Linked DNA regions of Homo sapiens: regions 2, 3, 4, 5 and 6 are each linked to region 1. Evidence: fine-mapped expression QTL. A gene starts in region 1. Each other region holds a variant in brackets. All regions are shown on one strand. Distances are between the middles of the regions.

The links. PIP is the estimated chance that this variant, and not a neighbour inherited with it, causes the effect. A credible set is the group of variants that fine-mapping cannot tell apart.
Region 2: its variant is the best candidate, but not a certain one, in a credible set for the expression of BCLAF3 in monocytes (TOPMed, PIP 0.74).
Region 3: its variant is the best candidate, but not a certain one, in a credible set for the expression of BCLAF3 in prefrontal cortex (CommonMind, PIP 0.76).
Region 4: its variant is the best candidate, but not a certain one, in a credible set for the expression of BCLAF3 in lung (GTEx, PIP 0.86).
Region 5: its variant is the best candidate, but not a certain one, in a credible set for the expression of BCLAF3 in esophagus muscle (GTEx, PIP 0.79).
Region 6: its variant is the best candidate, but not a certain one, in a credible set for the expression of BCLAF3 in whole blood (TOPMed, PIP 0.89).

The regions. Positions count from the first base shown.
Region 1 is chrX:19,988,878-19,992,985 of GRCh38, reverse strand. It overlaps BCLAF3 (BCLAF1 and THRAP3 family member 3), which reads left to right and starts at 1,925. Exons shown (of 12, transcript NM_001367774.2): 1 at 1,925-2,078. It overlaps LOC729609 (a long non-coding RNA gene), which reads left to right and starts at 3,207. Exons shown (of 2, transcript NR_024440.1): 1 at 3,207-3,300. RefSeq lists silencers at 1,583-2,012, 2,053-2,102, 2,173-2,542.
Region 2 is chrX:19,938,492-19,942,599 of GRCh38, reverse strand. The region is part of intron 8 of BCLAF3 (BCLAF1 and THRAP3 family member 3); the gene reads left to right. Among named protein-coding and RNA genes, the nearest start is that of BCLAF3, 51 kb to the left of the region's middle. The variant G/A (reference allele first, on the strand shown) is at 2,019.
Region 3 is chrX:19,906,514-19,910,513 of GRCh38, reverse strand. No RefSeq gene overlaps it. Among named protein-coding and RNA genes, the nearest start is that of SH3KBP1, 21 kb to the right of the region's middle. The variant TTG/G (reference allele first, on the strand shown) is at 2,164.
Region 4 is chrX:19,946,599-19,950,706 of GRCh38, reverse strand. All of the region lies in intron 8 of BCLAF3 (BCLAF1 and THRAP3 family member 3), which reads left to right. Among named protein-coding and RNA genes, the nearest start is that of BCLAF3, 42 kb to the left of the region's middle. The variant G/A (reference allele first, on the strand shown) is at 1,783.
Region 5 is chrX:19,896,305-19,900,412 of GRCh38, reverse strand. No RefSeq gene overlaps it. Among named protein-coding and RNA genes, the nearest start is that of SH3KBP1, 11 kb to the right of the region's middle. The variant C/G (reference allele first, on the strand shown) is at 1,878.
Region 6 is chrX:20,041,386-20,045,493 of GRCh38, reverse strand. It overlaps MAP7D2 (MAP7 domain containing 2), which reads left to right. Exons shown (of 17, transcript NM_001168465.2): 7 at 970-1,130; 8 at 2,865-2,992. Among named protein-coding and RNA genes, the nearest start is that of MIR23C, 26 kb to the right of the region's middle. The variant G/C (reference allele first, on the strand shown) is at 2,554.

The sequences.
Region 1 (4,108 bases):
AGGGCAAAGCAGGGGGCTCTGCTTACAAGAGTGGTTGAAGGCTGGGCACAGTGGCTCCTGCCTGTAATCCCAACACTTAGGGAGGCCGAGGCAGCAGGATCACTTGAGCCTAGAAGTTCCAGAACAGCCTGGGCAACATGGCGAAACCCTGTCTCTACAAAAAAAAATTTTTTTTTTAATTAGCTGGGCATGGTGGTGCACGTCTGTTGCAACAGCTACTCTAGAGGCTGAGGCAGGAGTGTCACTTGAGCCCAGGAGTTTGAGGTTACAGTGAGCTATGATTATGCCACTGTACTCCAGCCAGGACCACGACCAAGTGAGACCCCTGACTCTTAAAAAAAAAAACAACAAAAAAAGGCCGGGACGCGGTGGCTCATGCCTGTCATCCCAGCACTTTGAGAGGCTGAGACAGGCGGATCACTTGAGATCAGGAGTTTGAGACCAGCCTGGCCAACATGGTGAAACCCCGTCTCTACTAAAAATACAAAAATTAGCCGGGCATGGTGGCGCACACCTGTAATCCCAGCTACTCAGGAGGCTGAGGCAGGAGGATCACTTGAACCTGGGAGGCAGAGGTTGCAGTGAGCCGAGATCGCACCACTGCACTCCAGCCTGGGTGACAAGAGCCAGACTCTATCTCTAAATAAATAAATAGGCCGTGCGCTGTGGCTCACGCCTGTAATCTCAGCACTCTGGGAGGCTGAGGCGGGAGGATCACCTGAGGTCAGGAGTTCGAGACCAGCCTGGCCGACATGGGGAAACCCTGTCTCTACTAAAAAAAAAAAAAAAATTAGCCGGGCATGGTGGCGCAGCCTGTAATCCCAGCTACTCAGGAGGCTGAGGCAGGAGAATCACTTGAACCCGGGAGGCAGAGGTTGCAGTGAACCGAGATCACACCACTGCACTCCAGCATGGGTGACAGAGATTCTGTCTCAAAATAAATAAATAAGTAAAAATAAAAAAGTGGTTGTAGTCAAAGGCTATGGGTTTAAGTTGGGTAGTGGGATTTCAACATTTAAGGTTTTAGAGATGGAGCAGTATCAAGTGATGAATATCTAGATTTTCTAGACTACGGGTGAACAAAGTAGAAGTAAAGGTCATTCGGATTGAGGAACTGAAGGAAACCAGGCTGGGTTGTGGATGTTGGATTCATTGGGAGGATGGCAGTAAATCAGATGGAGAGGAAAACTAATGCCAGACAGTCAGTAGGTGACAGTGACAAGGGAGGGCAAAAGGTGTTACTACCAGATGGCACAGAGCCTGAAAGAGCTATTTCACAAGGGGAAGAAAGAATATCAGTGTCAAGCGGAAAGCTTCAAGAGTGAAGAAGACACACTACCTTTGAGGCTGGTGCATGGAGTGTGGGAGGGGAGAAACCAAGCGAGTAGACAGAGATGAGGCAATCTTTTGAATTGGATGACGGATAGATGTTGGTACCATCCGACCATTTGGGAAGTCCAGAGGGGAGGCTTTGTTTTCCGGGAATATGCTTAATTTGAGGAGTGGGAAATGGATAGAGGGTAGGTGAATGGTTAGAGATCTGCACAAAGCTGGAAGGCCCACGGGATCAAGTTCTGCCCATGACTGAGGGGTGACCTCCAATCCCTGGGCCTTAACCCCCAGGATCCCTGGACCTGGAACGCCCATTAGGTCCCCTCCTTTCCGGCGAGAGGGCGGCAGAGGGCGCAGGCGCTCTAGCCGGACCCGGCGGGCGGGTGGCAGAGGGCGCAGGCGCCCTGGACAGAGCGGCCGCAGTGGGAACGGCCGGCAGGGGGCGCAGCGCTCTGGTCCGAGAAGCCCGGGCGGGGCACCCTCGCCGGGAGAGTAGAGGATAGGGGTCGGCTGGAGAACGGGCCCAGTGCGAGGCCGCGAGCAGTGGGCGGGGCCGGGGTGGGGGCGGGGCGAGGCGGTTCCGGAAGGAAGTGGTTCCGGGTCCCGCGGCCCGGCAGAGGTGGCTGGGGTGTCGCTGCTGTGGGAGGCGGCGGCAGAGTGAGGGGCGAGGCCCGAGGGGCCGGCGGCGGCGGCGGCGGCGGCGGCGGCGGCGGCGGCGGCGGCGGCGGCGGGGGCTTCCCGGCCGGGTGAGCGGCTCGGGGGGAGGCGGGGCGAGGAGGCCTGGGCCCGCAGGGAGGGCGTGTCCGCCACCCAGGAGGGGCGGTTCTCGGGGTGGCGGATGGGGCAGCGGGGAGGATGCGGCGGTCCGACTCGGGTTCTGTTGGGACAGCTCCTCTGCGCCCCGTAGGTCCCTCGGTCAGCGCCTTCCCTTGGGCGCGGCGACCCGGCGCGGGTTTCCAGGGGACAGCTGCCCGGCGCCCCTGAGGTCCCTCGACAGGCACGGCGACCCGGGCACCTGCTGCCGCGACCCTGATCCTCCGCCGTCGTCGGGCAGGTTGCGGTCCCCGCGGTTCCCTGCATCTGTTAAGAGGGCGGGGGCCGGGAAGGCGGTGTCCGGGGACGGTGCCCTTGTCCTCGAGGCGGCCCTGGACGCGTCGCCTGCGGGGCCTGAACCGAGGACCCCCCCGTACCCCGCTTTGTCCTGGTGAGGCGCTCCTGCCGCGCAGCGGCATCTTCCTCTGTTAACGTCGAGAATGAGTAGTGAAGGCTGCTCATTATCCTGCATTGTAAAGTAAAACTTGTCTTTTTAGAAGCGTCTCCTGAAAATTGGCGCATCTCCTGTGCTTCTCTGGGTTGTATTGGGAAACTGGGCCAGTCGCTGTCAGGACTGTCCTGTTGGTAGGTCTCGAGGGAAAGAAATGGGAGAGAAACCTACCCCGTAAATATTTTCCTACTCAGGTGCTTTTCGAACTACCTATTAGGTGATTGCCTTTTTTTTTTTTTTTTTTTTTCCTGGAACAAATTACAAACTGCAGGTAGAAATCAGGAAGGCCTCTTTAGGCTCCTCGCCAGGCAGCCTTTTTAGCATTTTTCTGAATGTGAACAGGTCCAAACGACAGAGCAGAATTTGAAAAGAAAGGTTTTGCTGCAGATTCATAACGAGGACTTTATTTTTCATTGGTATTTTAATGGTAATGGTATAGCAATGTTTTATTTTTAATGTTTTTTTTAAATGGCTACTAAAATTTTATTTTGAAATCACAGCTGTTTCAGTCACCCCCAAGAAACCTTTAAAACGTCTTATTAGAAACATTTTTATATATAGGAACATTTAGCCATTTATACACATTTCTAAGATAGAAATCACAATGAAGATACGTTGTTTCACTATTCCAAGTTCCAAGTAACCATGGTGAATATGGTTTCCCCATTCCAAGTAACCATTGTGAATGTGGTTATACACCTCCAGTCTTTTTCTATGCAGAGCTTAATACATGAGTTTTTCTAAAGTGAATTCTCTTTTGTAATTATCTTTTTCTGACTAGATAGCATGCCATTATATGGCTGTAATATTATAATTTATTTCATTGGTCATTCTCAGTTCTTCCCTATTAAAATACATTGTTGGGTAAATGTAAAAGTCCGCATATCTATGATTACTTTCGAATCTCACTCTGTCGCCCAGGCTGGAGTGTAGTGGCACGATCTCGGCTCACTGCAACCTCCACCTCCTGGGTTCAAGTGATTCCCCTGTGTCAGCCTCCCGAGTAGCTGGGACTACAGGCGTGTGCCACCATGCCCGGCTAATTTTTGTATTTTTAGTAGAGATGGGGTTTCACCATATTTGCCAGGCTGGTCTCAAACTCCTGACCTCCAGCGATCTGCCCGCCTCGGCCTCGCAAAGTGCTGGGATTACAGGTGTGAGCCACCGCGCCCGGCCCATGATTACTTTCTAAGTGTACATTCCTAGATGATAGAATTATTGGGCAGAGTATGCACATAAGGGTTTTTTTTTTTTTAATGTGAATTGCTCAATTTCCCTCTGGAAAGGATATGCTGTTTTGCACTCCTACCAACAATCTGTGAGTGTCCTTACCCACACCCTAGCAAAAGGCAACATTTAAAGGGATTTCTATAGGAATACTTTTGAGCCATACTTGTACTCTCCAACCAAGTACAACTACCCCTCTCTAGTCATCACTTTTTTCTTATTTGTTGATAGCACTTCAGCTTCTCATCTTTTATTGCGCCTTTACTATTTTGGTAAAGAAAGCTT
Region 2 (4,108 bases), 50 kb after region 1:
TGGTTCAATATACGCAAATCAATAAATGTAATCCAGCATATAAACAGAGCCAAAGACAAAAACCACATGATTATCTCAATAGATGCAGAAAAAGCCTTTGACAAAATTCAACAACCCTTCATGCTAAAAACTCTCAATAAATTGGGTATTGATGGGACGTATTTCAAAATAATAAGAGCTATCTATGACAAACCCACAGCCAATATCATACTGAATGGGCAAAAACTGGAAGCATTCCCTTTGAAAACTGGCACAAGACAGGGATGCCCTCTCTCACCACTCCTATTCAACATAGTGTTGGAAGTTCTGGCCAGGGCAATCAGGCAGGAGAAGGAAATAAAGGGTATTCAATTAGGAAAAGAGGAAGTCAAATTGTCCCTGTTTGCAGACGACATGATTGTATATCTAGAAAACCCCATTGTCTCAGCCCAAAATCTCCTTAAGCTGATAAGCAACTTCAGCAAAGTCTCAGGATACAAAATCAATGTACAAAAATCACAAGCATTCTTATACACCAGCAACATACAAACAGAGAGCCAAATCATGAGTGAACTCCCATTCACAATTGCTTCAAAGAGAATAAAATACCTAGGAATCCAACTTACAAGGGATGTGAAGGACCTCTTCAAGGAGAACTACAAACCACTGCTCAAGGAAATAAAAGAGGATACAAACAAATGGAAGAACATTCCATGCTCATGGGTAGGAAGAATCAATATCGTGAAAATGGCCATACTGCCCAAGGTAATTTACAGATTCAATGCCATCCCCATCAAGCTACCAATGACTTTCTTCACAGAATTGGAAAAAACTACTTTAAAGTTCATATGGAACCAAAAAAGAGCCCGCATGGCCAAGTCAATCCTAAGCTAAAAGAACAAAGCTGGAGGCATCACACTACCTGACTTCAAACTATACTACAAGGCTACAGTAACCAAAACAGCATGGTACTGGTACCAAAACAGAGATACAGATCAATGGAACAGAACAGAGCCCTCAGAAATAACGCCACATATCTACAACTATCTGATCTTTGACAAACCCGAGAAAAACAAGCAATGGGGAAAGGATTCCCTATTTAATAAATGGTGCTGGGAAAACTGGCTAGCCATATGGAGAAAGCTGAAACTGGATCCCTTCCTTATACCTTATACAAAAATCAATTCAAGATGGATTAAAGATTTAAACGTTAGACCTAAAACCATAAAAACCCTAGAAGATAACCTAGGCATTACCATTCAGGACATAGGCATGGGCAAGGACTTTATGTCCAAAACACCAAAAGCAATGGCAACAAAAGCCAAAATTGACAAATGGGATCTAATTAAACTAAAGAGCTTCTGCACAGCAAAAGAAACTACCATCAGAGTGAACAGGCAACCTACAACATGGGAGAAAGTTTTCGCAACCTACTCATCTGACAAAGGGCTAATATCCAGAATCTACAATGAACTCAAACAAATTTACAAGAAAAAAACAAACAACCCCATCAAAAAGTGGGCAAAGGACATGAATAGACACTTCTCAAAAGAAGACATTTATGCAGCCAAAAAACACATGAAAAAATGCTCATCATCACTGGCCATCAGAGAAATGCAAATCAAAACCACTATGAGATATCATATCACACCAGTTAGAATGGCAATCATTAAAAAGTCAGGAAACAACAGGTGCTGGAGAGGATGTGGAGAAATAGGAACACTTTTACACTGTTGGTGGGACTGTAAACTAGTTCAACCATAGTGGAAGTCAGTGTGGCAATTCCTCAGGGATCTAGAACTAGAAATACCATTTGACCCAGCCAACCCATTACTGGGTATATACCCAAAGGACTATAAATCATGCTGCTATAAAGACACATGCACACGTATGTTTATTGCGGCATTATTCACAATAGCAAAGACTTGGAACCAACCCAAATGTCCAACAATGATAGACTGGATTAAGAAAATGTGGCACATATACACCATGGAATACTATGCAGCCATAAAAAATGATGAGTTCATGTTCTTTGTAGG[G/A]ACATGGATGAAATTGGAAATCATCATTCTCAGTAAATTATCGCAAGAACAAAAAACCAAACACCGCATATTCTCACTCATAGGTGGGAATTGAACAATGAGATCACATGGACACATGAAGGGGAATATCACACTCTGGGGTCTGTGGTGGGGTTAGGGGAGGGATAGCATTGGGAGATATACCTAATGCTAGATGATGAGTTAGTGGGTGCAGCGCACCAGCATGGCACATGTATACATATGTAACTAACCTGCACAATGTGCACATGTACCCTAAAACTTAAAGTATAATAAAAAAAAAAAAATAAATAAATAAATAAAAAATAAAGACTTCTTGAAATTTACACATGATAACTTGGCCAAAATTTAGTCCCATGGCCATGCCTAGCTGCAGGGCAGCTGGGAAATAGATTCTTTAATCTGAGCATTCATTTGCCTGGTCAAAAATCAAATATCAAAGGATTTAATTTTTGTATTGTGGCAAAATATACATATCCTAAATTTACCATTTTAACCATTTTTAAGTGTAAAATTCATTGACATTGAGTATATTCACAGTGTTGTACAATCACCACCACTATCTACTTCCAGAACTTTTTCATCTTCACAAACAGAAAGTCTGTTTCCATTGAACAGTAACTCCTCATGCTCTCCTCTCTGCAGCCCCTGGTAACCTCTATTCTTTCTGTCTATATGAATTTGCCTATTGTGGGTATCTGATATAAGTAGAATCAGACAATATTTGTCGTTTTGTCTCTGGCTTATTTCACTTAGCATAGTGTTTTCAGGGTCAATTCATGTTGTATCATGTGTCAGAATTTCATTCCTTTTTTAAAAAATTCATTCTCTTTTAAGGCTGAATAATATTCCATTGTATGGCTGTACTACATTTTGTTTATCTGTTTTTCTGTGGACATTTGTATTGCTTTCACCCTTTGGCTATTGTAAATAGTGATGTTATGCATATTGGTATTGTCATCTTTTTGGTTATAGCCATCCTAGTTAGTGTAAAGTGGTGTCTCATTGTGGTTTTGATTTGCATTTCTCTAATGACTAATGATGTTGAGCATCTTTCTATGTGCTTATTGGCCATTGGTATGTCTTTGGAGAAATTTCTATTCAAATCCTTTGCCCATTTTAAAATCAAAGTATTTTTGTTGTTGAGGTGTAGGAGTTCTTTATATATTCTGGATACAGCTCCCTCATCAGATATATGCTTTGCAAAGAGAATTTTAAAAAATCCATTGCTTTGTTTGTAGAAGTAGTCATACACACTAATGGTAATCATTTGGAAAAATATAATAAAGTATAAAATCAAAAATATAAGGCATTCCTAATTTTACCAGTCAGAGATGACCACTGTTAATATTTAGTACATTTCTTGTCATTTATTTTTTCTGGGCACATATGTGTATATTTTAAATAATTGAAATTATCCTCAATATACAACTTTGCACTTTACTCTTTTGATCTACTGTCGTGAGCATTTTGACAAAGCATAGGCCTTTTTAACATTTAAAAAACCCCGAGTGTCTATTTCATGTCAGATTCTGGGATCAGAGCTGGGGCCACAAAACGAATCATCCACATTGCTTCCTCTGAAGGAATAGCAACTTGTTCCGTTAAACAGACAGGTACACCAGTAGTTACAAATACGGAATGATAGGTGTTAAGACCTAAAAATGCTACATGGGCACATAGCAGGGAGTACCTAGTTCACCTCAGAAGGGTTTAGGAAACTCTTCCTTGAAGAGGTACAAATGGATCTAAATCTTTAAGTTAATCTAAGTAGAAGGAAATGGTCACAGAAGGAACTGCACATGCAAAGGTGTAGAAGCAGGAGAGATTGCTTTGTGCCAGGAACCACATGTACTTCAATATTCCTGGCTGGGCACGGTGGCTCACGCCTATAATCCCAGCACTTTGGGAGGCCAAGGTGGATGGATTACTTGAGGTCAGGAGTTCAAGACCAGGCTGGCCAACATGGTGAAACCCCGTGTCTACTAAAAATAGAAAAAATTAGCGGGGTGTGATGGCGTGCACCTGTAATCCCAGCTACTCGGAAGGCTGAGGCAGGAGAATCAGTTGAA
Region 3 (4,000 bases), 82 kb after region 1:
TCAGGTTTTCTACTACCCAACCTTGTCTCCCAGCAGCTCTCCCAGGAGACCTTTGTTTCATGGTTTCCTGAAGATGCAGGGATGAACCATCAGGCTCTGTGCATCTGCTCTGGGCCAGGTGCTATGTGAGAAGACGTGTCATTGGCCACCCTCGGTGGGCTTCCTTCTGACCCCAAGCCTTGGCGTATTCATTCACCTCCCCAGCCTCTTCCCTCCCTGCCATTGATCCACATTCTACCTATTTTTCCGTATGGGCATTTCTACCAATACTTTAGTTCACCTTTTTCCACTTCAAATTCTTAGCATTTCGAGAACAGAGGTCTTGTAATTTTCCTTTTCACTAAGAGGCTTGGAGGTGAATTATAGTCACCCTATTATGCTATGGAACACTAGGTCTTACTCCATGTATCAACCTATTTTTGTACCCATTAATCATCTCCTCCTTACCCGCCCCTCCCCACCACCCTTCCCAGCCTCGTAACCATGCTACTCTAGCTCCATGAATTCAGGTTTTGTGTGTGTGTGTTTTTTTTTTAGCTCTCACATATGAGTGAGACCATGTGATATTTGTCTTTCTGTGCCTGGCTTATTTGACTTCACATAAGTCCTCCAGTTTCTATCCATGTTGTTGCAAATGACAGGATTTCATTATTTTTATGGCTGAATAATAGTCCATTGTGTATATGCACCATGTTTCCTTTATCCATTCAAAAGGAAAGAGTGGAACTGGAATGTTTCTTTTTTTTTTCTTTTCTTTTTTTTTTTGAGACGGAGTCTCCCCTTGTCGCCCAGGCTAGAGTGCAGTGGCAATCTTGGCTCACTGCAACCTCCGCCTTCCAGGTTCCAGTGATTCTCCTGCCTCAGCTGTTGGAGTAGCTGGGATTACAGGCATGCACCACCATGCCCAGCTAATTTTTGTATTTTTAGTAGAGATGGAGTTTCACCATATTAGCCAGGCTGGTCTCAAACTCCTGACCTCAAGTGATCCACCCGCCTTGGCCTCCCAAAGTGCTGGGATTACAGGCGTGAGCCACGGCACCCAGCTGGAACTGGAATGTTTCTAACACAAATAATAAATGCTTAAGGTGATGCATATCCCAATTACCCTGATGTGATCATTACACATTGTATGCTTATATCAAAATATCACATGTTGCCTACAAATATATACAACTATTATGTATCCATGATAATTAAATATATATATATTTTGGCCAGGCATGGTGGCTCATGCCTGTAATCCCAGCACTTAGGAAAGCTGAGGCAGGAAGATCACTTAAGGCAAAAAAAAAAAAAAAAAAATAGAGTCATCAATAGATACTAAATATATGAGGCAATTTTGATGAGCAGGACATTTCAATGTGTAAAAGTGTCTTCTCACAGATCGCTTATTTATTGCAAGGCAGGAAGGAAAAACAGCAATTATACAGTGGAAAGAACAGACAACTCCTTGACTAGGGGATGGAAATTAACATCACCAAGGAGGAGCAGATGGACATCAGTGTGATACTGTTACAGTGGGTAGCTAGTCTGGTATGAGCAGGGCAGGAGAGGGCTCCCCCGACCCACATACCAGGAGTGTCAGGCAACCATCAGGTGATAGTCAGGCGGTGGTTAACTGTCTCTCTAAAATAATGGTGATCAGCAGCTTCCCGATAAGATCTCAGGAGTTGGGAGGAGTAACGCAAGACCCCAGAAGTATGCCAACCTATAAAACCCCAAGTCAAAAGGTCAAACCGTGCACTTGCTTTTCAGGTCGACTGCTTGGCTTTCTTCCAAGTATACTTCATTTCATTCCTGCTCTAAACTTTTTAAATAAACTTTCATTCCTGCTCTAAAACTTGCCTCCATCTCTCCTTCTGCCTTATGCCTCTCAGTCCAATTTTTTCTTCTGAGGAGGCAGTAATTGAGGTTGCTGCAGACCCGTACAGGTTCATTGCCGGAAGATATTTTGGTGCCGTGTGACACGGATATGGATTCTCCACTGCTAACAATAGATAACACAGCATCACTAATATGGTATGTTGGCTGGGAATGCAGCACTTGAATATAATCATAAAGAATCATCAGACAAACCCAAAATGAAGACCATTCTGGTTTTTAAAGAGGGCCTCCATTCTTTCTTTCTTTTCTTTTCTTTTCTTTTCTTTTTTTTTTTTTTTT[TTG/G]AGACAGAGTCTCCGTCTGTTGCCCAGGCTGGAGTGCAGTGGCACAATCATGGCTGACTGCAATCTCAACCTCCTGGGCTCAAACGATCTTCCCACATCAGCCTCCCGAGTAGTTGGGACCACAGGTGCATGCCACTGCACCTGGCTTTTTTTTTTTTTAAGAGATGGTGGGGGGCGGTGGGGGGGTCTCCTTATGTTGTCCAGGCTGGTCTTGAACTCCTGACCTCAAGCAATCCTCCTACCTTGGCCTCCCAAAGTGCTGAGATTACAGGTGCGAGCCATCATGCCCAGGCATGTTGATGATTTTGGTCCAAACCAATCTTCATGGCTATGGTGGCAAAATGATGATTTTCTAACTCCAGTGCTCCCTCTACACTTACCAGCTGGCATTGGCATTCTGCTGTAAGCAAGACTCCTCCCTTCTTCCCTGCTTATTTGTCTATTTATTATTGATATGGATTCATTTCTACTTTTTCAGTGGCTTATAATTCATTATTGTCCTTGATTATTTGGGAGCTCAAATGATCCTAGCTTTGGCCAGTGGGAGCCCCTTTAAGCTGATTGCTGTGTCCTCTTGATATGGACCTATCATTCCTTTTTTGACTTTATCTTTTTTATTTCAGTAGGTTTTTGGGAAACAGGTGGTGTTTGGTTACGTGAATAAGTTCTTTAGTGGTGATTTCTGAGATTTTGGCGCACCCATCACCAAGCAGTGTACACTGTAACCAATCTACAGTATCCCTTGCCACCCCCCACCCTTTGCCTCAAGTCCCCAAAGTCCATTGTATCATTCTTATGCCTTTGCATCCTCATAGCTTAGCTCCCACGCATGAGTAAGAACATACAATATTGGTTTTCCATTCCTGAGTTACTTCACTTAGAGTAATAGTCTCCAGCCAGGTGCAGTGGCTCATGCCTGTAATCCCAGCACTTTGGGAGGCTGAGGTGGGTGGATCACCTGAGGCCAGGAGTTCGAGACCATCCTGGACAACATGGAGAAACACCGTCTCTACTAAAAATACAAAAAAAAAAAAAAAAAATTAGCTGGGCGTGGTGGCTCATGCCTGTAATCCCAGCTACTTGGGAAGCTGAGGCAGGAGGATCACTGGAACCCAGAAGGTGGAGGTTGCAGTGAGGTGAGATCACACCACTGCACTCCAGCCTGGGTGACAGAGTGAGACTCTGTCTCAAAAAAAAAAAGTCTCCAATTCCATCCAGGTTGCTACGAATGCCATTATTTCATTCCTTTTTCGTTATTTCATTCCTTTTTATGACTCAGTAGTATTCCATTGTGTGTGTGTGTGTGTGTGTGTGTGTGTGTGTGTGTGTACCACATTTTCTTCATCCACTCGTTGACTGATGGGCATTTGAGCTGGTTCCATATTTTTGCAATTGCAAATTGTGATATGCACCTATCATTTCTTTTTAGCACTTCTTTGCTCTGATGCATAACAAAATGTTTTGGTCTTTATCTTGGACATTCCCTGCCCCAGGCTTGAAATCATTCATTTTTCTAAGGAGTCCTGGTTCCTTTTAGTGGGGGATGGTATTAGAGTCCAAGACTTGGGCCCTAGTGCCCATTGCTACTGGAGTGTCTTTGCTTATAAGCATTTTCAGCAGCCATATCTAGGAAACACACACACACACATACATGCATATATATACATATTTTAGAAATGATGAGGTCACACTGGCACCTACCATCCATCTCCATAGGATTCTTCCTTGCCTTCTCCTGTTTGATATTTGTATGTCCCTTCCTCCACAGTGAGAACCCTGGCTCCCAACATCAAACGATTTAATCATTTGCTCAATCCCATAATACATCTAAAGTA
Region 4 (4,108 bases), 42 kb after region 1:
TTACCATATTTTTACATTTTTTGTGTGATGATAATTTTCATTTTAATATAGGGATTTGCTCCTTCAAATCCATCTTATATGTTTAAGTGAAATCTATTAAAATGTTTCCAGGTTATTCAGTGATTCTCATATGCGGTTTGATTTAAACAACAAAAACTATGGGGTAGGTGAATATTTGAGGTCTTCGTAATTCTGATGAGGAGTGTTACCACTTTTAGAATATTAGCAGGAGGCAGGACCAGCAAGTTTACAGACTATTTAGCTTGAGCTGATTGAAACTCTGATACATTCTGCCCTTTAGATTCTGGGTTAGTCTTTGAATAGTAGAAAATTTCCTGAAGTCAGTACAGTTATCTTTTGCGACTCTTTGTGGATGTCTATACTGGATAATTGTGGATCACTGTACTGACAAAAAGTGAAAAAAATCCACATTTTTGGATGTCGTCCATGAAATTGAGGCAGGTGTAGTAGAAAATGCAGAGGAGACCTAAGTTTGAATCTCATCTCTCTCAGTTTACAAGCTGACCGATCTTGGACAAATTTGCTTAGTCTCTGGAGCCTCTTCATCTGTAAAATGATGATAAAATCAATTTATGCTATGGGGCAGTTATGAGTATTAAACGAGTTGGCACATGTGAAGTACTTATGTCATATATGGCAAATAGATCCTCAGTAGATTTTTCTTTCTTAACCTCATACTTCTGTTTAGGGGCTCTTAGTAGTCTAGATCAACCCCAGTTTATCTCTAGTTCTGAACACCATGTGGATGGAACTCACGGCAACTCTGGGGCCCCATATGATTATGAGGTATAATTGAACAGGACAACATTTCCAGTTCACTTGAGTTCTTATACTACTTGGATCTCCCAAAAAGTGAGACTGTATGAATACAAAGAGACAGTGCTAATTGTTTTTCCATAATCTTTTCTATCAAATTGCTAAGATAATGTATTTGACAAGACTTTTAAGTCAAGTCTGTAGCTAACTAGGTCAGAATATATGGACTTGATGCTGACAATAAATTCAGAACTAATTAAAACATAGTGAAACGATGTGTTGAGGTATATAAAACAATTGAAAATGAAAGAGTAAAAATGTTGTCCCTTGCTGGGTGAAAGTCTCCAGTCTCCTAATATGATATGGTTAATGCATGACATGACTGTGCTCCTTAATGACACAAGCTCTCTATCATGCTTTTCTTGACTCAACAAGTGTAAGAAACCCAGTACCAAGAAACAGGATTTTAAAAACAGATTTAAGACAATCAGCATATTTTAAAGATCATAAGATGCTTTAGGATGTATCTTTACCCCTTGACGTGATTAAGAACTTGAGCACTGGAGTTGGACCTGAGTTCAGTGGCTGGCTCTTGGATTCCTAGCTATGTGACTGACTTTGGGAAAATTATTTTGTCTCTGTTTCCTCATCTGTAAAATAGGGATAAGAGTTGTACTTACCTCACAGTGGTGGTTAAGATTAAGTAAAGTGATGAGTGTAAGGTAGAGTAGCTGGTCAGCATTAAGTATTATGAATGCTAGCTTTGAGGACAGTGTGGTAGTGTGCAAGGATGTGTTCCTACAAGCTGTCTTTTGCTGGGTCTGTTGGATTATTTTATTTGTATTGGATAGGTGGTGAGGCATAGTGGAGCCATGAGGAGTTTTTAAAAATGAGACATTACTTAACATTCATCCTGCAAAAATAAACAATTCAGTAGTTTTTAGTATATTAACAAACTTATGCAACCATCATTACTATCTAATTCCGAAACATTTCATCACCCCA[G/A]AAGTAAACCCTCTACCCATTAGCTGCCACTCCCTGCCCCATTTCTCCTTCCCCCTTAGTCCCTGGCAACTACTGTTCTATTTTCTGTATCTATGGATTTGTCTAATCCTGACATTTCATATAATCATTTTTCTTTTCTTTTTTTTTTTTTGAGACAGGATCTCTCTCTGTCACCCAGGATGGAGTACAGAGGCACAATCACAGCTCACTGCAGCCTCAACCTTCCGTGAGGCTCAGGTGATTCTCCCACCTCGGCCTCCCGAGCAGCTGGGACCACAGGCTCCTGCCACCACACCCGGCTAATTTTTCGTATTTTTTTTTTGTAGAGACGGGGTTTCACCATGTTGCCCAGGCTGGTCTCAAACTCTTGTGCTCAAGGGATCTACCCGACTCAGTCTCCCAAAGTGCTGGGAGTACAGGCATGAGCCACCACAACTGGCCTGACATTTCATATAAATTCAATAATATAATATGTGGCCTCTCGTAACTGACTTCTTTCCTATAGCATAATGCTTTTAACGCTCATCCATGTTGTAGCATGAGAATTCTTATGTATGGCTGAATAATATTCCATTGTATGGCTATATCGTATTCTCTTTATCCATTCACCAGTTGATGGACATTTGGGTTGTTTCCACTTTTTGTCTGTTTGTGAATAACTGTGCTGTGAACATTTGTGTGCAAGTTTTTGTGCAGATACCTGTTTTCGTTTCTCTTCAGTATATAGCTAGGAGTGGAATTGATGAGTTTGATGGTTACTCTATGATTAACTTTTTGAGGAACTGCCAGACTGTTTTCCAAAGCGGCTGTGCTATTTTACATTTCCACCAGCAGCATCTGAAGGGTCCAGTTGCTCCACATCGTTGCCAACTCTTCTTATTAATCTCTCACTTTATCCTAATTCAGTTTCCTTATTTAAATAAGAAAAATATATTATCCTTTTATCTTAGAAATTCAGTTTATAAAAATTGACCTCATTATATGTTTTTATATAAACTTTTAAAATCAAGTCAGGGTAGTTTCCACAGAAATACGAAAGAAATGAAACATGATGCAATCATAAGTCATAGGATGTAGTGATTTCTCACCTGTGTGGCTTTCCTTCAAAAAGTTGTATGCAGCCTTTCTGTCTGTGTTTGCTCACTGTTGTATCCCCACTGCCCTGAGCTCAGTTCATATTTGTTGAATGAATGAAGAGTTCCCAAAGGAGTAGACAAGACAGAGGATACCTAACTTGTAATACATTTAGATTTGGGTTACTATTCCCTGATGCCTTAGGATCTTTCACAAGCACACCTAACACTTGGGGGTTCTGTCTAGCCTCTAGGACCCATCTGTTCTCTACAGGTGCTCCTTAACTTATGATAGGGCAACATCCCAATAACCCATTGTAAAGTAAAAAAAAAAAACTGTAAGTTAAACCATTGTAAGTTGGGGACGGTCTGGATTTACTTCCACTTCTTACCCGTTTCTTACTCTGATGTCTCCATGTTTTCTCCTGACACACTATTTCTGCCTTTTCTAACTGGAGTTACTAAGTTTCCTACAATGTAAATGAGTTGTTTTGTTATAGAGGTATGGAGTGTGTTTGATAAAGTAGCTTAAAAATAGTATCAGTGGACTTGAAGAGGACATCAAACTGCCAAGAATTTCTTTTATTTTTTATTTTTATTTTTTAACAAGGAGTTGGAACGACAGACTGTCGTTTTAGCTGGGCAGGTTACGGGAAAACATCAGTTTTTGTTCTTGCTATTGCAGTAGTCATAATCTATACTGAAGTAGAGTGAACTTTATAAAGATATATTCATATAGTCAACAGATATTTATGTATTGATTTCTTTGTTCTAGTTACTGTTCTAAGGACTGGGGATATAGTGAAAAACTATATACAAACCTTTGTCTTCGTGTTACTTATAATTTAATAGCAGAAGAAAGAAAATAAATACATGTCAGTGGAGTGATAGGTGAAAATAAGGCAGAAGAGGAAATTTAATAGCAAAGAGTGACATGTGTGATATGGTTTTATTTAGGGTGATCATGGAGTACACTTATGACTTTTAAAAAATGTAGCTGGGTTGTGAATTAAGTGAGGGTGTTAGCCATAGGGTTATCTGAGGGGATAGTATTTCAAGAGAGGGAACAGCAAAAGCAAAGACCTTCAGCATGCCTGCTTTTGTTTAAGGAATAGAAAGGGGGACAGTGGGGTTGTGACAGGGTGGTAAAGGGAGAGAGTAGATGAGGCCAATCACGAAGGGCTTTGAAGAACTGAAGGACGTGAAGACTTTGTATTTTATTCTGGATGAAGTTAGAAAACATTTTGGGTTCT
Region 5 (4,108 bases), 93 kb after region 1:
ACCAGGTGAAGCCTAAACTCATCATGCCCAGGCTGGTGGCATAGACACCTCTATGCTCTGCTGGCTCAGAAAATAGAAGGAAAACGGATCAACAACAGCCGCATGGCTTTAGGATGACCTTTTAACCTTTTGGAGTATTTGCTTGCAAAGCTTTTAATGTATTTTTTAAGTTAAAAGGCAACTGGGAGCTGGGCGCGGTGGCTCACACCTGTCATCCCAGCATTGTGGGAGGCTGAGGTGGGCCGATTATGAGGTCAGGAGATCGAGACCATTCTGGGTAACACAGTGAAACCCCGTCTCTACTAAAAGTAAAAATAAAAAAATTAGCCAGGCCTGGTGGCGGGCACCTGTAGTCCCAGCTACTGGGGAGGCTGAGGCAGGAGAATGGCGTGAACCTGAGAGGAGGAGGTTGTAGTGAGCCGAGATCACGCCATTGCACTCCAACCTGGGCGACAGAGTGAGACTCCGTCTCAAAAAAAAAAAAAAAAGGCAACTGGGGGGCGGGCGGCTCATGCCTGTAATCCCAGCACTTTGGGCGGCTAAGGCAGGTGGATCATTTGAGGTCAGGAGTTCAAGACCAACCTGGCCAACATGGTGAAACCCTGTCTCTACTAAAAACACAAAAATTAGCCGGGCGGTAGTGGCATGCGCCTATAATCCCAGCTACTTGGCAGGCTGAGGCGGGAGAATTGCTTGAAATCGGGAGGCAGAGGTTGCAGTGAGCCAAGATCATACCACTGTACTCCAGTCTGGGTGACAGAGTGAGACCTTGTCTCAAACAAACAAACAAAAAAAAGCAACTGGGGATGTGTGTGTAGCCGTTTTATCACTTAGTGTTATACCATGAGCATTTTATGTGTATACAGATTTCATACCAAGCAAAACACTCACGAAGATCCATTGACATTTTATATTAAGACCATTGAATAGAGTTCTAAACCATGAAAACAAATGAGCTGTTTTGTCCAATTTCAGACGATGTCATCATTTCTAATGGAATCAGACACAGCTGACTTTACATTCCCAAGCCTGCTCTCTCCTGCTAAAGAACATTGATTGGGCATGACATTTAGCCTCTCGGAACCTGAGTTCCTTCCCTTGTACAATGTTAATACTAACATATAACTGACACTGTTGTGAGAATTTAAAAGCAGATAAGAGTATCGCAGCCCCCTCCTCCATAAATGGTAGCGATTGTTATCTTAAGATTATCCTTTTTGCCCAGAGAGACTTTCAAAAGACCCATAACACTATTTTGTGGCAGGTCAAACCTTTTCATTCCTTTATTCAGGCACTGAGAAAAGGTCTAGTCCATATCTGATAGTTTTTGTGTGTGTTGTTTATAGTTATGAAAGACTGAGGCGTATATAAAACTTTTCAGAAAATTTAATTATGAACACATGTCAAAGTCAAAGTTTTGTTTCAAGATTCCCCCCCTTTTTTTTTTTTTCTTTTCTTGAGACAGAGTCTCTATCGCCCAGGCTGGAGTGCAGTAGCACGATCTCAGCTCACTGCAACCTCCGCCTCCCGGGTTCAAGCAATTCTCCTGCCTCAGCCTCCCAAGTAGCTGGGATTACAGGTGCCCACCACCATGCCTGGCTAGTTTTTTTGTATTTTTAGTAGATACAGGGATTCGCCGTGTTGGCCAGGTTGGTCTTGAACCCCTGACCTCAGGGGATCTACCCGCCTTGGCCTCCCAAAGTGCTGAGGTTACAGGCATGAGCTACCGCACCCAGCCCCAAGATTCCCTCTTATTCCCCCTTGGTTGGGACATTTTCTGGGAAGTGAATGGTTAGATGATCATTGTCAGACTGGACACAAGGTGAAAGAATGTCTGGCTAAACATCACTAGACTTCTGACCTTAGGTCAGCTGAGA[C/G]GGGGGCAGGGGGTGGAGGGAGCAGTCTCCCCGACAAGGGCTTAATCTCATTAAAGAGTATCAGAGAATTGCTTTAGCATTTTTTCAGGAATTCTAATTTCTTCCCAGAAGAAGATTATGAAATGCATTCAAATTTAGGAAAAAAGAAAAAGGTGATTTGAGAGTCCTCCAGGGAAAATAGTACCCCCTCTTCAGTGTTCTCAATTTCCATCATTAGAGCACTAAAGAGGAATTACTAGCTCCAAAAAATTACAGTGATAATAGGTGGAAATCATCATATATCTTAGTATCATTACACACTTTAAAAAATGTCTGGAAGAATATTCCTTCAAGAGTTAACAGTGATTATCAATTATCTCTGCAGTAATTGGTAATTGTGAGATGATGGAAGATTTTCACCTTATACACTGTATCCTTAATATTTTATTTTAGTTTAGTTTATTTTTGGGACAGGGTCTTGTTCTGTCACTCAAGCTGGAGGACAGTGATGTGATCATGGTTCACTGCAGCCTCGACCTCCTAGGCGCAAGCAGTCCTCCCACCTCAGCCTCCCGAGTAGCTGGGACTGCAGGTGCGTGCCACCATGCTTGGCTGATTTTTTATTATTTTATTTTTGTAGAGATGGGATCTCACTATGTTGTCCTGGCTGGTCTTAAACTCCTAGGCTTAAGCAATCCTCCTGCCTCAGTCTCCCAAAGTGCTTGGATTGCAGGCATGAGCCACTGTGCCTGGCCTGTTTTATTTTTTAAAATACTGAGCAGAGATTACTTTTCTAATGATAATGATATGAATATATATCGCAAAACATCAAGTCAGTTTTACCAGTTCAGGGCTATGCCTCACTGGTAGCTCCCTTGAGCCCGTTTTCATTGCCAAGGACCAAGCAGTTCATCAGATGACAGAGCGTTCACCTTGGCTCTGAGGAGTTGAGGTACAGCGGGGATTCTCACACTTGAGCTGCTGATCAAAACACAGGTTACTGGGTCCCAGCCCCAGAGTTCCTGACCCGGAAGGCCTGGGGCGGGGTCCCCAGCGTGCATCTCTAACAGGTTCCCACATGCTGCTGCTGCTGGGCTGGGGACCACACTTTGAGAGCTTCTGTGGTCCAGAAAAGAAAACTTCAGCTGGGGAATAGAATCCTTAACCCAGGGCTGGCAAGCAAAACAAAGAAGATGAACTTGACTTACTTCCCACTTTTGCCTCTGGCTGGTCTGTAATTATTTTTGAGAAGAGGAACTTGATTTGACTGACTCTATTTAATAAGAAGTCGTGCTAGAAAAGGGTTGTGCCATCTCTTATTAAGTGACCGCCTGGTTCAGAGACTTTTCAATTAAGTCCCATAGCCTCGGGCTTGAGGATGCATCTGAGGTTGGCTGTCTGCTTTGGGGCCTTCACAATCTAGGGGATGGCTGTGGCGTTTCACCGTCAGCTCAGGCCACTGGTCTTGGTTTCTCTGAACCCCGAGGTGATGGGGTGGTGGTTATTGTAATTCTGATTTCCTGTTTGGGAAGCAGTGTGGGGGTATTATTGGAGGAGTTAAAACACAGGGAATATCGTCCCCACCCAGCCCCATATAACCCACCAATCACATATGTATTCATTCTCTTTTGGTACTAAAATATACATAACAAAATTTGCCATTTTAACCATTTATTAATGTACAGTTCAGTGGCATTAAATACATTCACATTGTTGTGCGACCATCACAACCATCCATCTCCAGAACATTTGCATCTTCCCATACTGAAATGCTGTAACCATGATCACTCTTTTAAAATCTTTAACAGCTTTTATTGAGATATAATTTGCATATCACATAATTAACTTTTTTTTTTTTTTTTTTTGAGACGGAGTCTCGCTCTTTTGCCTGGCTGGAGTGCAGTGGTGCAATCTCGGCTTGCTGCAACCTCTGCCTCCTGGGTTCAAGTGATTCTTCTGCCTCAGCCTCCCGAGTAGCTGGGACTACAGGCGCACACCACCATGCCCAGCTAATTTTTGTATTTTTGGTAGAGACAGGGTTTCACCATGTTGGCCAGACTGGTCTCAAACTCCTGACCTCAGGCAATCCACCCGTCTCGGCCTCCCAAAGTGCTAGGATTATAGGTGTGAGCCACTGTGCCTGGCAATTCACCCATTTTAAAATGTATAATTCAACAGTTTTTAGTATATTCACAGAGTTGTGGAACCATCAACACAATCAATTTTAGAACGTTTTGTCACCGCAAAATGAA
Region 6 (4,108 bases), 53 kb before region 1:
GTGTAGTGGCGCGATCTTGACTCACTGCAGCCTCAACTTTCCAGGCTCAAGCGATCCTCCTGCCTCAGCCTCCAGAGTAGTTGGGACTACAGGAGTGTGCCCCCATGCCAAGCTAATTTTTGTATTTTTTGAAGGGCTGTGGTTTCACCATGTTGCCAAGGCTGGTCTCAACCTCCTAAGCTCAGGTGAGCCACCATGCCCGGCCCATGGCTATGATTTATTATAGCAGGAGGAAACATGAAAAAACTAGCAAATGGAGGAGGTGCATGGGACTAAGTTCAGAAGTAACCAGGTGTGGATTTCCAAGAGTCTTCTTCCAGTGGAGTCACATGGGACGAGCTTAATTCCTCTACCAACACATTGTGACAACATGTATGAAATGTTGCCAGGCTGGGAAGTTGGCTAGAAACTCAGTGCCCAGGGTTTTTACTGGGGGCTAGATATGTAGGCATCCCCTCCCAGGCACATACCCAGATTCCACACTCCCACAAGAAAAGCAGATGCTTAGCATAAACCATACTGTTTGTATAAACAGTTTAGACACCCATCAGTTAATGGTGGGAACCCTCCTGAAATCTAAGTTCTCAGATGCCAGCCAAGGGCCACCCTTATAAGCAGGCCTTTCCAAGCACAGCAGTCAGATCTGCTATGTTAACCCTTTTGTGCACAAGGAAATCGATGTTTAGAGAGGTTAAGTAACCTGCCCAAGGTGATCCAGCTATTAGGTGGCAGTGCTAGGTCTCTGTGGCTCCAAAGTACAGACTTTTAACCCCTGAAATAAACTTGAATAAACTTGACTCTTGAGTATGGGAGCCTTTTTAGGGTAAGATCCATCCTGTGTACAATAGAAAAGTATGATATTGATTGCCCAGGTCATATTTTAACAGAAATGTGTTCTTCCCAACTCTCTGCTCTACTTTTTCCATCTGTACTCTCTGTCCTTCTGGCTGTTATACTGTAACTTTCTAGTATTCCATGTCTGTCCTCGTTTAGCTCCTCTTGGCCCTCTTAACCCTTCTTACAAGTCTTCACCCACTCGAAACATTGAGAAGAAGAAAGCTACATCTACGTCTACATCTGGTGCAGGAGATGTTGGGAAAGAAGCCCTTTCAGGAGGAGAGGCCTCTCTGGTAGGTTTAAAACCACCCACCCACTCACTCCTCTAGACTGTGTTCTGTCTGATGGTGTGATTACTTCTGTGCTTGACCTGGGCTGTCTGTTTCCATCAATCTCCTGGGACTGCTCAAAGCAGGAAAGGGTAGATTTAGTTCAAAATTTTACCCAACCTTTGAAAATCATTTAACTTTTTGCACCCTCTTAAGTCTTAGTACCTTGGAGCAAATTCTTAATGATGTCCTTGTCACAGCCTGCCCTCCAGAGGACAGGAGTCAGAAGGAATGTTCTAAATATCCTCTGTCTTCCTCGTTACGGATATCTGATTCTGGGTCAGTCTTGCCCGTGCATCTAAGTGGAACTGAGGATCTACGTCAACTTTTACCTACAAAAGTAATCATTAAATATTCTTTTGAGATGAAGTCTTTTTATGTTGCCCAGGCTGACCTTGAATTCCTAGGCTCAAGTAATCCTCCTGCCTCAGCCTCCTGAGTAGCTGGGACTACAGGCACATGTTACTATGCCAAGCTTAAACATTTTTGATGGCATACTGGCACTATCAGTAAATTAAATGTTGAGAAGGCACCCCCAATTGTGTCTATTTATTTAGAAATTACACAGTGCCATACTACTTTTGTTAGTTATTGATTGCTACTTAACAAATCACCTCAAACCTTGGCAGCTTAAAATAACAAATATCTATTAATTCATGGGTTCTTTGGGTCAGAAATTCAGAGTGACTTAGTGGTTCTGGTACAAGGTCTTTCATGAGGTGTGGTCAAGATGTTGGCCAGGGCTGCATCATCTGAAAGCATGGCTGGGCCTCATCTGAGACGGCTCATTCATGGCTGTTGGCAGGAGGCCTCGGTTCCTCACTGCATGGGCCTGTCCATAAAGCTGCTTGAGTATCCAAATGATGCCACAGCTGGCTTCCCTCCAAGCAAGCTATCGGGAAGCTGCAGTGTCCTTTAAGTAAGTCACTAAGATCAACCCACACTCAAGAGGAGAGGAATTAAGCCTCACCTGTCGAAGGGAGGAATATCAAATAATGTCAGGACTTATTTCAAAACTACTTCATTTTATAATGCCATATTTTCTTTTCAAATCTGTTGTGGCTCTTAGAAGTGCATGTTTTAGACTCTCGGATTTTACTATACAGTGGATTAGTGTTGAAAGGGATTGATGGATGTGAGTGTGGGGGCCAATTGAGGACTTGCTGCAGAAAAGTGTGATAGGGAGAGAAGGGAGCTAACCCTTGTGGAGCACTTTCTGCAGGCTGGGCACTGATGTCTGTTCCCTTCTGCCAAAGGAGGTAATGGGAAGACCTACAGGACTAGATGGGGTTGCAGACCCATTATACCATGTATACCATCAGGGGCCACAGCTCACTGTCTTGGATGTTGTAACCACATTTTCACCCACCTGTAATTTTTTTGTAGT[G/C]ATTTTACATTTTTATACTCTTTTCAGTTCCTATATGTCTAAGACCGTAATATGGTTCAGTTGTTAACTCTTTGAAAGACAACAAGGAGAAGGAAATCTTTGCATTTTGAGGCTGATTTTTTTTAACTGGATAATGCAAATGTGATGACCTCATCCTGCCTCCCCGCAAAGATGCCTGTCATGTGAAGCGTTATAGCTTCATATCGATCCCTCTGAAAGAAAGCTGTGCATTGTTCCATCTGGGGTATTAGTCTTATAAATTGTGGAAGTAGTGCCAGTCATGGACTGTGGCTATCCTGTGTCCCCTACAGGTGGAGAAGGTGAAGCGGGGGCAACGAACAGCAACTTCTCTTCCTGTTGTGAACTTCGGGTCCCCTCTGAGAAGATGTGAGTTTTCTGGAGGCATTCCTAAGAGACCATCTTCTCCTGTGATATCCAAGTAAGCATCTCTCCCCTTTGCCAGACAGTCTGACTGTCATGAGTCAGTTTGCTAGGGCTTTGTGCCATCCAGTGTTGCAGCTCCTGCTCCCCCGTGAGGCGTGGCCAGCCAGAAGTGGTAAGTGGGAGAAATGCTGGCCTTGGAGTTACGTGGCTTGACTCTCTGTGTATCTTCTGGGTGAAAGATCCTTTGCTAAGGGACCCCAGTGCGTAACAGGGCTTTTATTTACCAAGATGATGCATTCAGCATTTTCTCTTTAGGTCCATGAATTCCATTCTGCTTTTCTGGTATTCTTTTTCCAGTTGCATTTGGATTTAAGTGATTGCATTGGGCTTGGGCTCCTCCTGACATTCTCCCCCACCTTGTTGTCTCTCTCTTTAATAGAGAGACAATAATAACTTGTCAGCCATGATCAACAGTATTTTAATGAAGCAAATATATATGTGTGTGTGTTTTTAAGAAATGGGGTCTTGTTGGGTTGCCCAGGCCTGGAGTACAGTGACTGTTCACAGGCATAATCACAGCACGCTATAGCCTCCAACTCCTGGGCTCAAGTGATCCCCCCGCCTCAGACTCCCAAGTAGCTGGGACCACTATGCCCATGCACCATAACACCACCATGCCTAATTTTTGTTAGGAACTAGGTAAACTCACCAAGGAAACCATGTAACTGAAAAATTTACAATAACTTTGTGACCACCAAGGTCTTAAGTCATTAAAATATTTTACTGACAGTAACTGACAAAAGACTCAGTAAATAACTCAGTCCAGTAGGACAGTGGAAACCATCTTTAGTAGGACAGAGAAAGAAAGAGAAATATGATTTAATTTGGGAATATAGGAAAGTTTTTATATGGAGAGAATCATATAAACCTTATTCAGTGTATCAGTTTAGTTCAGAGAATGTTGGATAAACACAAGTTTAATGAAAACTTGCGAATTTGTCAAAAATATTTAAAGATGACATCAGCTCTTAAATTTCCAATGTGTTGCTTTCTAATAGAGACTTTTTCACTACTATTAATAATTTTTTTTAGAGATCACTATGGTTTTGATACACTACTAATACCTGCCATTGATGTGTTTGTCCTCCATAAGGAAAATCTTTCCATAGCA